Regions from separate parts of the Homo sapiens genome. Here region 1 is linked to region 2. Evidence: fine-mapped expression QTL. A gene starts in region 2. The other region holds a variant in brackets. All regions are shown on one strand. Distances are between the middles of the regions.

Region 1 (5,503 bases), 55 kb after region 2:
CGATGGGGCAGATCCATGTTCACAAACACGCCCATGTGAATTCACTCTCAGATGTCTCCTCGTGTCAGCACGCTGGGTGCCAGCACGCTCTGATATTGACACAAAGGGCCACGGAGTCACCACTCACTCCACACACACTCACCCCGTGCCCACTTACCCAGGGAGGGCCAGGAATGAGGATGCCACTGTGGCTCAGTGATGGCGCCGAGACACAGGTGAACACTGTAAAATGTGGATGCCTGGAGGCAGCCCACACCCTGGGCCTTGGCTGGGGGAAAGGTTCCAGAAACGTCATCACAACGATGCATTTCATCAGAACTGAGCACATGAATGGGGAGGGGCAGGACTTCCTGAATGTCCCAACCCCACTGTCCCACCCTCTGTGTCAATATGAGGCTGCCTTATAAAGCACCAAGAGGCTGCCAGTGGGACATTTTCTCGGCCCTGCCAGCCCCCAGGAGGAAGGTGGGTCTGAATCTAGCACCATGACGGAACTAGAGACAGCCATGGGCATGATCATAGACGTCTTTTCCCGATATTCGGGCAGCGAGGGCAGCACGCAGACCCTGACCAAGGGGGAGCTCAAGGTGCTGATGGAGAAGGAGCTACCAGGCTTCCTGCAGGTGAGCCAGGCCGGCAGTGCTGGACTCAGCGGGGGCTGGGGAAGAAGGGGAAGGCGTGGCAGGCAGAGGGCTGAGAGCTGCGGTGGGGTCGGCGGTCAAGGGGCTCAGAGGCAAGAGGGACAGATCCTGAAATGCCCTGGAAGCCCAGCCAAGGAACGGACCCACCCTGGCATAAAGGCAGGGGAGGCGGGAGCATCTGAGCAGGGAGAGGGTGTGGTCAGCTTGATCCTTGAAACATGGGGTTGACCCCAGTGTATTTGTGACAGGCCTGGTGGGAGAGTGGGACTCAAACCTGTGCAGTGGGGGCAGGGGCGGAATGCAATCCAGGGCTGCCATTTGCAAGTTTGCCAAGCTTGCCAAGCCCTTGAGCCCTCGGGGCTGTCCTCCAAGGCTGCCGGCCATAAACGCCCCAGCTCTGCCTCCCACTTGCCCGCTTTCCCTGCTCCCATTCCCAGGCCCCTTGTTGCCTGGTATTAGTGGGTCTGGCAGGAAGGACGGGAGGAGGCTCCATCCTGGCACCTGTCTGCGCAGAGCTGTGGACCTCCCTTGGGCTCCCTGCCAGGGAGGAGCCACCGGCCTGAGCCTCACAGAAGGCCCCTCAGGGCGGCCAGGACCAGCTTCCTTCCGCCCGGGGCAGCCTCCGGCTGGGCTGAACAGAAGCCGTACCCTCTCCATTTCCCCTTCCCTTTGACCCCTGTCCTCTCCTTCTTTCTCACTCCCCCACTTTCTTCCTTCCTTCCCCTCCCCTTCGGGCCCCACCAGACTCTGCCTACCTGCTAAGGGGCTAACCCACATAGATGCTGATAATCAAAAATGAAAGCCTGAAATTTTCAGCCCTAGAATCACTTCAAAGACATGAAACACTTCAGAATATTGCTTCTATTTTCTTTTCTTTTCTTTTTTTTTTTTTTTGAGACAAGATGTCACTCTGTCACCCAGGCTGGAGTGCAGTGGCAGGATCACGGCTCACTGCAGCCTCGACCTCCCTGGGCTCAGGTGATCCTCCCACCTCAGCCTACCGAGTAGCTGGGACTACAGGTGCATGTCACCATACCCGGTTAATTTTTGTATTTTTTTTAGAGACAAGGTCTCACCATGTTGCCCAGGCTGGTCTCAAACTCCTGTGCTCAGGCAATGCGTCAGCCTCGACATCTCAAAGTGCTGTGATTACAGGCGTGAGCCCCGACACCTGGCCTAGTTCTATTTTCTAAATGTGAATTCTGTAAAGATATCTTTTAAAAATAAAGTTCTGTTTTTGGTAGAAAATGTAAAAATAGATAAATATGGAGGGAAGAAATCCCCCCTGGAATACAGACGCTTCCTCTCCCTTCCAGCCTTTTCCCCATATGAACATTGCTGTGAGTGAGATTTACATGCAATGTAATTTCTTTTTGAGCTTAACATTACAACATAAATTCTCAAACTCTGATGTTCATTAAACACCCCAGCCCCATCCTGGGAACTTGGGCTTGGGGCTCGGGGTGTTCTGATAATGATCAAAGTATGAGAATTGAACCCATGAGGACTTTGATCCAAGATACTGGGGTGTGGGGAGGGGCAGGCACAGGTGTCCTGGGAACACACTTTGAGAAGCAATGGCAAAGCTGGGGGTCCAGCTAATGTGTTACATTAGAATCACCTCGGGGAGGCCCTGGGTGCCCTTCTCAGCCCTCCCTCCGGAGGCTGCTGAAGCCCAGCAAAGCCGGAGTCAGAGAACAATGTCCGCCTGAGGGCAGGGCTGGGCTGGGCTGGCCTTCTGGCCCTATCTGCTCCGTGCCCAACCCAGCGCCCCGCACAGTCGGAGCTTTGTAAATACGAGGTGACTGTCTGCCTACAAACTTTGTAAACATCACTTGAAATGGCCGCAGGGTATTG[T/C]GACATGGCCATACCACTATTTGTTTGCTATTGAATTTGTACTTCCCTGCCTTACTTTTGCTATTGCAAACCATGCTGTCACTAAGGTCTTCATGCACACAGTTGTGTCTTGGTCAGATGATATGTTTCTACCAATTTTAATTGTGTTTCTTTCCACCTGGACACACAGCTCTCTGGCCCAGGGCTGGGTCATCAGCACACCCTGCTGCTGCTGTTCAGATCTGCATCCTGGTCCCGCTTGGTCCCACAGTGAGAACGCTTTGCTATCACATGGGCAGGCTCTGAGAGCCCTGCCGGCCTGGCCTTCTCAAAGAAGACCTGAGAGCTTGGGACCCAAGCAGAGAGGAAGAACAGGGCTCAGGGTGCTTGCTCCATGCTCGCTCCACACCTGGGGCTCAACCCTGGCTTTCCCCGGCTCCCTGTGTGACTTCAGGGCAGGTCCCTTGGGCCCTCTGGGCCTTATCATCTTCATCTGTAACAGGGCGATGCCTCTGCCGTGTCTGGTGGTGTTGAGGAGTTCCTGTTTGTGTAAGCAGCTAGTTCAGTGCCAGCACGAGATGGGAGGCCCATGAAGTTAGCAGTGCACAAAAAATAGAGCAAAGACTGGATGCATTTCCTGAGAACAACCATCACTGTAAAGCACTTTACAAATCCAAAGACAACCCCCGGCAAAAACTCAAAATGAAACTCCCTCTCGCAGAGCACAATTCCAATTCGCTCTAAAAACATTACAAGTTAGTTCATGTCATGCCAGATAGCTGAAGGCAGCTCACAAGTTCTTAAGGCCAGGAATGCCATGTGTCTGCTATGCACAGCTGGCCCTGGCCCTGACAGCAAAGGTGACGCAGATGTGGGTGCCCTGCTCCTGCCCAGCAGCAGTGCTTGGTGGAGGCTGAGGCCCTGCACAGGCACCCTCACTGCTGACCTTGAGCCTCTCTCTCCTCTAGAGTGGAAAAGACAAGGATGCCGTGGATAAATTGCTCAAGGACCTGGACGCCAATGGAGATGCCCAGGTGGACTTCAGTGAGTTCATAGTGTTCGTGGCTGCAATCACGTCTGCCTGTCACAAGTACTTTGAGAAGGCAGGACTCAAATGATGCCCTGGAGATGTCACAGATTCCTGGCAGAGCCATGGTCCCAGGCTTCCCAAAAGTGTTTGTTGGCAATTATTCCCCTAGGCTGAGCCTGCTCATGTACCTCTGATTAATAAATGCTTATGAAATGATCCTGGTCTCAGAGAAACTGGTTATTTCCTTAAAACCTCAGTGTCCTCTCCCCACAAAACAGAATTCACTAATTAAACTTGTCATTTCATTACTCATTGCCTGCCTGCAGTGGTGAGACAGATGAAGAAGACAAGGCAGTCGATAAAAATCCATTTGTTGGCCATCTTCTGAGTGCCCACTGAGACACAGTCCCACCTTTGGCCGTGTGAATGCCACCATGTCCTGGACCCAAGGGAGGCTCGGGTACACACATCCATGTATTTATTCATCTACTTCGTAATTCATTTAGTCGGTCACGTAGCCACTCATTGAACCTGGGCCCCTCCATCTCTCCAAACAGCATGTTTTCTTCAAGTAACATACTTCTAATATTTATTTATTTTTGAGACGGAGTCTCGCTCTTGTCACCCAGGCTGGAATGCAATGGCGCCATCTCAGCTCACTGCAACCTCCGCCTCTTGGGTTCAAGTGATTCTCCTGCCTCAGCCTCCCGAGTACCTGGGACTGCAGGCACCCGCAAAACCACACCTGGCTACTTTTTGTATTTTTAGTAGAGACGGGGTGTCACCATGTTGGCCAGGCTGGTCTCGAACTCCTGATTTCAGGTGATCTGCCCACCTCAACCTCCCAAAGTGCTGGGATTACAGGTGTGAGCCACTGCGCCTCGCAAAGTAACATATCTTTTTTTCTTTTTTTTTTTTTTTGAGACGGAGTCTCACTGTGTTGCCCAGGCTGGAGTGCAATGGTGCGATCTTGGCTCACTGCCAGCTCCGCCTCCCAGGTTCACGCCATTCTCCTGCCTCAACCTCCTGAGTAGCTGGGACTACAGGTGCCCACCACCACGCCCGGCTAATTTTTTGTATTTTTAGTAGAGACAGGGTTTCACCGTGTTAGCCAGGATGGTCTCGATCTCCTGAGCTCGTGATCCACCCACCTCGGCCTCCCAAAGTGCTGGGATTACAGGCTTCAGCCACCACGCCCAGACAGTAACATACTTTTAATGATGCAATGCTATTTTTGCCACAAAGACTATGAAACACCATAACAGAGAAACAATGAATTCCAAGAGAGCATTAGAATCATCAGTGAACAACTGCTCACATCACCTGTATTTAGTTTTACGACACTAATGTTGGGAGCACCCAAAAGGACTCAAGCGAGGTCTTGGATGATAGGTAGGTAACTGGATCTGGTTTTAGGACCCCTATCATTTTTTGGATACCCAGTATTTAAAGCCTCTTGCTATGTTTGAAGACATTTTCACTAGAGAAGATCTATCACCAAAAGATCCTGAACTTGGAGGTGGACACAACAATACGAGGCTTGGGTGGATCCCTCTTTGGGGAAGGGACTGCAGATTGCAAATATTTTTGCTAGAGAGAGAGTCGTGTTAGGTTAGATGGGAGCAGATACACACATTTAAATAAAGTAAAAACTAATAATGAGGGAGAAGTAAAGTTAATAATGGGGGAAACAAAAGGGGTGGACTGCCAGAATGGAAATCTTTGTTTCTTTTTTCCTTTGAGAGACGGCCTTGCCCTGTCACCCAGTCTGGAATGCAGTGGTGCTATCGTGGCTCACTGCAATCTTTTTTTTTTTTTTGAGACGGAGTCTTGCTCTGTCGGCCAGGCTGGAGTGCAGTGGTGTGATCTCAGCTCACTGCAAGCTCCACCTCCCGGGTTCACGCCATTCTCCTGCCTCAGCCTCCCGAGTAGCTGGGACTACAGGTGCCTGCTACCAAGCCTGGCTAATTTTTTGTAATTTTTAGTAGAGACAGGG
Region 2 (5,000 bases):
CTTTTTTAGGAATAGAATGGGAGGCAGGTTTGCCTGATGCAGTTCCCAGCTTGACTGTCCCCTTTGGTTTAGTGATTATGGGGTCCCAAGATTTATTTTCCTTTCACACAAGCCCCAAAGTTGGGTTTTTACAAGAGCAACCAAAATATTAAGAACCTGAGAAAAGTCAAAACAAAACATATACTTACGTTTCTCTGAATCCTTAATTCTGCTGTAGTCAAAACTGTGATGTGTCCCTTTACCTTGAAAATGGAAGCCAAATCCATGGGATTTATGTAAGCTGGATTTCTGAAAAGTTTATTGATGTTTGGGAATGGGACAACAAGCTAGGAAATTAACGTATCTCTCCTCATTCTGTGTTGAGTGGATGTTAAGGCAAATTTACCAATATGCGCCAAGCTCTGCCCAGGGCGTTAGGGCATTAAGGCCACAGAGCTAAGACCCCAAAGAGCCTAGGATCCAGTGGAAGGGCTCAGAGGCTCTGGACAGCGCCTTGCACCACACACTGAACATGGGTCTGCTGGGGCCTCAGGACGGAGCAGCCAGGCTCCACCTTGGGGTGTGGGGAGGCCGGTTTGGTGAAAAGACACCCAGACCCTTCTGACTGTCATCCAAGGAAGAAGGAAAACTACTCTTTAAAAAGGCAGAAAGGGCCAGGCGCACGGCTCATGCCTGTAATCTCTGCACTTTGGGAGGCCCGAAGTGGAAGGATCACTTGAGGCCAGAAGATCAAGGCTGCAGTGAGCCATGATCCCACCACTGGACTCCAGCCTGGGCGACAGACCGAGACCCTGCCTCAATAAAAAAAAAAAACTTTTTAAATAATAATAAGTAAATAAGGCCCGGCACGGTGGCTTACGCCTGTAATCCCAGCACTTTGGGAGGCCGAGGTGGATGGATCACGAGGTCAGGAGATCGAGACCATCCTGGCTAACACGGTGAAACCCCGTCTCTACTAAAAATACAAAAAATTAGCCGGGTGCGGTGGCAGGCGCCTGTAGTCCCAGCTACTCGCGAGGCTGAGGCAGGAGAATGGTGTGAACCCCGGAGGTGGAGTTTGCAGTGAGCCGAGATCGTGCCACTGCACTCCAGCCTGGGCGATAGAGCCAGACTCTGTCTCCAAAAAAAAAAAAAAAAAAAGTAAATAAAACGGCTGAGGGGACTCAGGTCCCCCTGCGTGAAAGGAAGGGGCTTTAAGCGTCCACCTGGGGTAGCTGCATTATCACGTAGGATCCTCCTCTTCTAGTGTGGAAGGCCCTTTTTAATTTTCATTTATATTTTATTTATTTATTTTGCGACGGAGTCTCACTCTGATGCACAGGCTGGAGAGCAGTGGCGCGATATGGGCTCACTGCAACCTCCGCCTCCCGTTTTCAAACGATTGTCTCAGCCTCCCAAGCAGCTGGGGTTACACGCGTGCAACACGACGCCCGGCTAATTTTTGTATTTTTGGTAGAGACGGGGTCTCGCCATGTCGGCCAGGCTGGTCTCGAATTCCTGACCTCAAGCCATCCACCCACCTCGCCTCCCAACGTGCTGAGATTACAGGCGTGAGCCACCGCGCCTGGGAAGTGCGGGAGGCCTTTTTAAAAAATGTAAACTCGCGTGCTCAAGAAGCCCTATCGGAGGGAAACACCCAGAAGAGGCCACCCTCCAAACACAGGGTAAAACAGGGGTGACGCACAGAGGTAACGGGAAAGCAGGAACGAGCGAGAGCGTGCGGTCCCGTACCTGCGCGTGCCTGCGTGCGCGTCCGTGCGGCCGCGACGCCGCCGCCGGTGCCTCTCTTTCTAGACGTGCGCGCGCCCGCAGCTCGCCCCCCTGACCGTAAAGAGGCCCGGCTGTGTCGTGAAAGGGGCCGCAACGCGCAGAGCGCTGGTTGACGGCCGGGACTCCATTTTGTTCGCCGTTACTCTGCGCGTAAGTCGCTTGTCCGTGGCTTCTCTGAGAAGAAAAGTTGAAAAAGGGTAAAAGTTTTCAGGAATATTCGGGCTCTCTATTGCTAAGCATAGCGAGTGTCGGTTTTCTCTCTCCAACAGACATCGCTATTGCGGTTCCGAGGCAGTGGGAAGAGATGCGGCCCCTGGACATCGTCGAGCTGGCGGAACCGGAGGAAGTGGAGGTGCTGGAGCCCGAGGAGGATTTCGAGCAGTTTCTGCTCCCGGTCATCAACGAGATGCGCGAGGACATCGCGTCGCTGACGCGCGAGCACGGGCGGGCGTACCTGCGGAACCGGAGCAAGCTGTGGGAGATGGACAATATGCTCATCCAGATCAAAACGCAGGTGGAGGCCTCGGAGGAGAGCGCCCTCAACCACCTCCAGAACCCGGGCGACGCGGCCGAGGGCCGGGCGGCCAAGAGGTGCGAGAAGGCCGAGGAGAAGGCCAAGGAGATTGCGAAGATGGCAGAGATGCTGGTGGAGCTGGTCCGGCGGATAGAGAAGAGCGAGTCGTCGTGAGCGCGGTCGGCGGTAAGTCGGGCACCCGCGCCAGGCCGAGGAGCGGCCCCAGCTTGGCCGCTCTTCGAGAGCGATGATTTCATCGAGATGCACCGGAATCGGGGGTGGGGCGGGAGAATAAAGGCGTGCTCGGGTCAGGGCCGATCTGGGCCCCGTCTTCGTGTTTTGTTTTTTGACGGTGGCGGCGTGGGATAATCAGAGTGGCCGGGTTTGGGCGTGATGCGTGTTCAGTGGAAGGGTCATAAATCTCAGAGTCGCCAAGGAAACAGAAACGGACAAGGTCCCGGGCCGTCCAGCAAGCGGGGGTGGAAATAGAGGATTTTCGGGGAAGACGTTGGACAAGTCAACGTTGCTAGAGACTGGAGTGAGTCAGGTGGTGGCCAGAAGAGGTGGCGTCCTGCACAGTGGCGTTCGTGAGGGTTTGGGGGTCGTTGTGCCTGGGATTAACCTCTCGATGATGAATTTCTTCCCATTGTGCTTTAGGTTTCCAGCCAATGGATTCTGGTCAACTGGTGGAGATTGGCTGACACCCTGGAGAAGCCGAAACCAGAGAGCCTTTTGTTTTCTCTTTTTTCCTGTCTATGCTCTGTCTCACTTAACACTACGTTTTCTGCTATGGTCTGTGGTTGATGACCTCAATATGAGTTTCGATTGTTAACGTGTTTTTGTTTGGGAAGTAATTTTGTTTGAAAATGCTCTCACATACAGGAATTAGGGCCTAGATTGTAAGCTCTTGCAGCAGTCACATTTGTTCCCGGGCTTTGGTGGTTATTTCTAAATTTTTGAGGTGCTTTGCTATTTCTTGTGTGACCTGATAGCTCCCTGGAACTTTGGGTCTGTGTGTGACACATGAGACTCACAGTTGGAGTTCTCCAGCTCTGGAGGTGCTGAAGGAGCTGCATTAATTCTGGAAGACGACTCCATGCAGCAACTACTGAAGAAAGGACCAGACTTCAACGGGGAGTGTGGATGGGCCGACCTGGCTGGGACTCGTGAATCTGGAGAAGAGCTGGAGAATGGATAGTATTGTCTGTATTTGGAGACTTTAATTTCTGTGTGAGACCAAAGGAGGAGAGATGTGTTTTGTTCAAAATTTAAATTTGTTGTGGTACACTATCTTATGTAACCTGTCTGGTGAGTTTGTTTGGACAACCTAACTCAGCTTTATTTGACATGGAACCTAAAATAGAAGATAAGATCTTGATATTCTGTACAAGTTGATGTAATACCCTGATGCGTTTTAGAGGACTTGGCATAAAATGAAAGATTGGCAAAGGCCCTTGAGGGGCTTGGGGATGACAGTATGGAACTGTCTGCATTGGACCCTAAACTGGACTAGAAGAGGCATCTTCAAGGTTCATACGTTGTCCAGCTGTAAGTTCATTTGAGTAGCAGACCTAACAAATATTTGAGGTCAGAACCCTACCATGTTAAAACAAACAAAAACTTACCATGTTAATAAAAGTATTCATTTGCTTGAAAAGACGAAAGACCTAAAAGGTTATTGAGAAATGTTAGTCCTTTAAGAATGAAATCTGCTGTCTCCCAGATGGTTCTCACTGTCAAATGGAGGGTGAACATCTTAACGGTTTCTGAGGCTCTTAGTCTCTAATCAAAGGGAAGCTTTCTCTCTCTGCTGTTGGGAACCGGGTGAGGAAGAAACACACTTGGTTCTTAGTGTGGGAAGAAACCACATGTAATCCTGTGGTCCAGGCCTCTGCCTTCAGAGAGCCAAAGCACCTTCAGTCTTTCCAATTGGAACATTGTTTTCTAGGCCTTGCACTGGGAATATAGCGATTACAGTTGCAGGGTGAGGGATGACATAGAGGAGATGTGATACCCCACCCTCCTTCCAGATTGAAGCCTTTCTGCCTCAGCTGCTAGAAGTGTTGCTGACAAACACCCTTCAGCTGGTTAGCCCTCTGGGCAGTGCCTTTTCAGAGGAGAGCTGCGTTAGCCAAAGTCATGCCCTTTTCCCTGGGTAGCCTACATCTAGTGAGTAATGGGCTGGAAATCTCAGGTCGCTATTTCTCTTACCCCAATTTGGGACAACTTTGAGGGACATGGTGGCTTCTGAGCTTGTGGGGTCTGCTGAGGCTTTTGTTAGGATTACATCACGCAGCCCACCTCCTCCCCCGTCCCAGCCTTGCATTCCTCCTCTTCCACAAGTGTTAATCCCTAAAAAACGTGCATCTAGTTTTCATCTTGGAGTCCACTTTCTGGGCAACCTAGTTGGTAGAAATCAAACAAAGCCATGTGTCCCTAGCACTAATAAAGATAGAATGTCCCAGGAGAACACTTGAGGGGGAGGTCTAGGAAAGCTTTCCAGAGCAAGTAACTCTTTCAGAGCTTGGCCTTGAAAGAGGAGCACAGCTTCCGAGGTCAGGAAGAGCAGGAGAGGCATGCTAGGCACAGGAAACAATGGAAGATGTTCAAGGTTTTCTGTGTGAGTTCCACACAGAGGAGGGAGAAGAAATGTATAGGACAGAATTATGAACTGGGAAACAACCACGAAAACTACATTTCGTACATTTGCCAAAAC

The links. PIP is the estimated chance that this variant, and not a neighbour inherited with it, causes the effect.
Region 1: its variant is fine-mapped to the expression of MRFAP1 in whole blood (TOPMed, PIP above 0.99).

Annotation. Positions count from the first base shown.
Region 1 is chr4:6,693,448-6,698,950 of GRCh38, forward strand. S100P (S100 calcium binding protein P) reads left to right here and starts at 431. Exons shown (of 2, transcript NM_005980.3): 1 at 431-623; 2 at 3,446-3,723. The coding sequence starts at 486. The coding sequence ends at 3,595. RefSeq lists enhancers at 1-698, 699-1,434, 2,637-3,399. The variant T/C (reference allele first, on the strand shown) is at 2,499.
Region 2 is chr4:6,638,789-6,643,788 of GRCh38, forward strand. It overlaps MRFAP1 (Morf4 family associated protein 1), which reads left to right and starts at 1,897. Exons shown (of 2, transcript NM_033296.3): 1 at 1,897-2,470; 2 at 2,942-3,941. The coding sequence starts at 2,075. The coding sequence ends at 2,458. It overlaps LOC124900653 (a long non-coding RNA gene), which reads right to left and starts at 1,833. Exons shown (of 2, transcript XR_007058007.1): 1 at 1,732-1,833; 2 at 1-242. RefSeq lists an enhancer at 97-891 and a silencer at 2,865-2,934.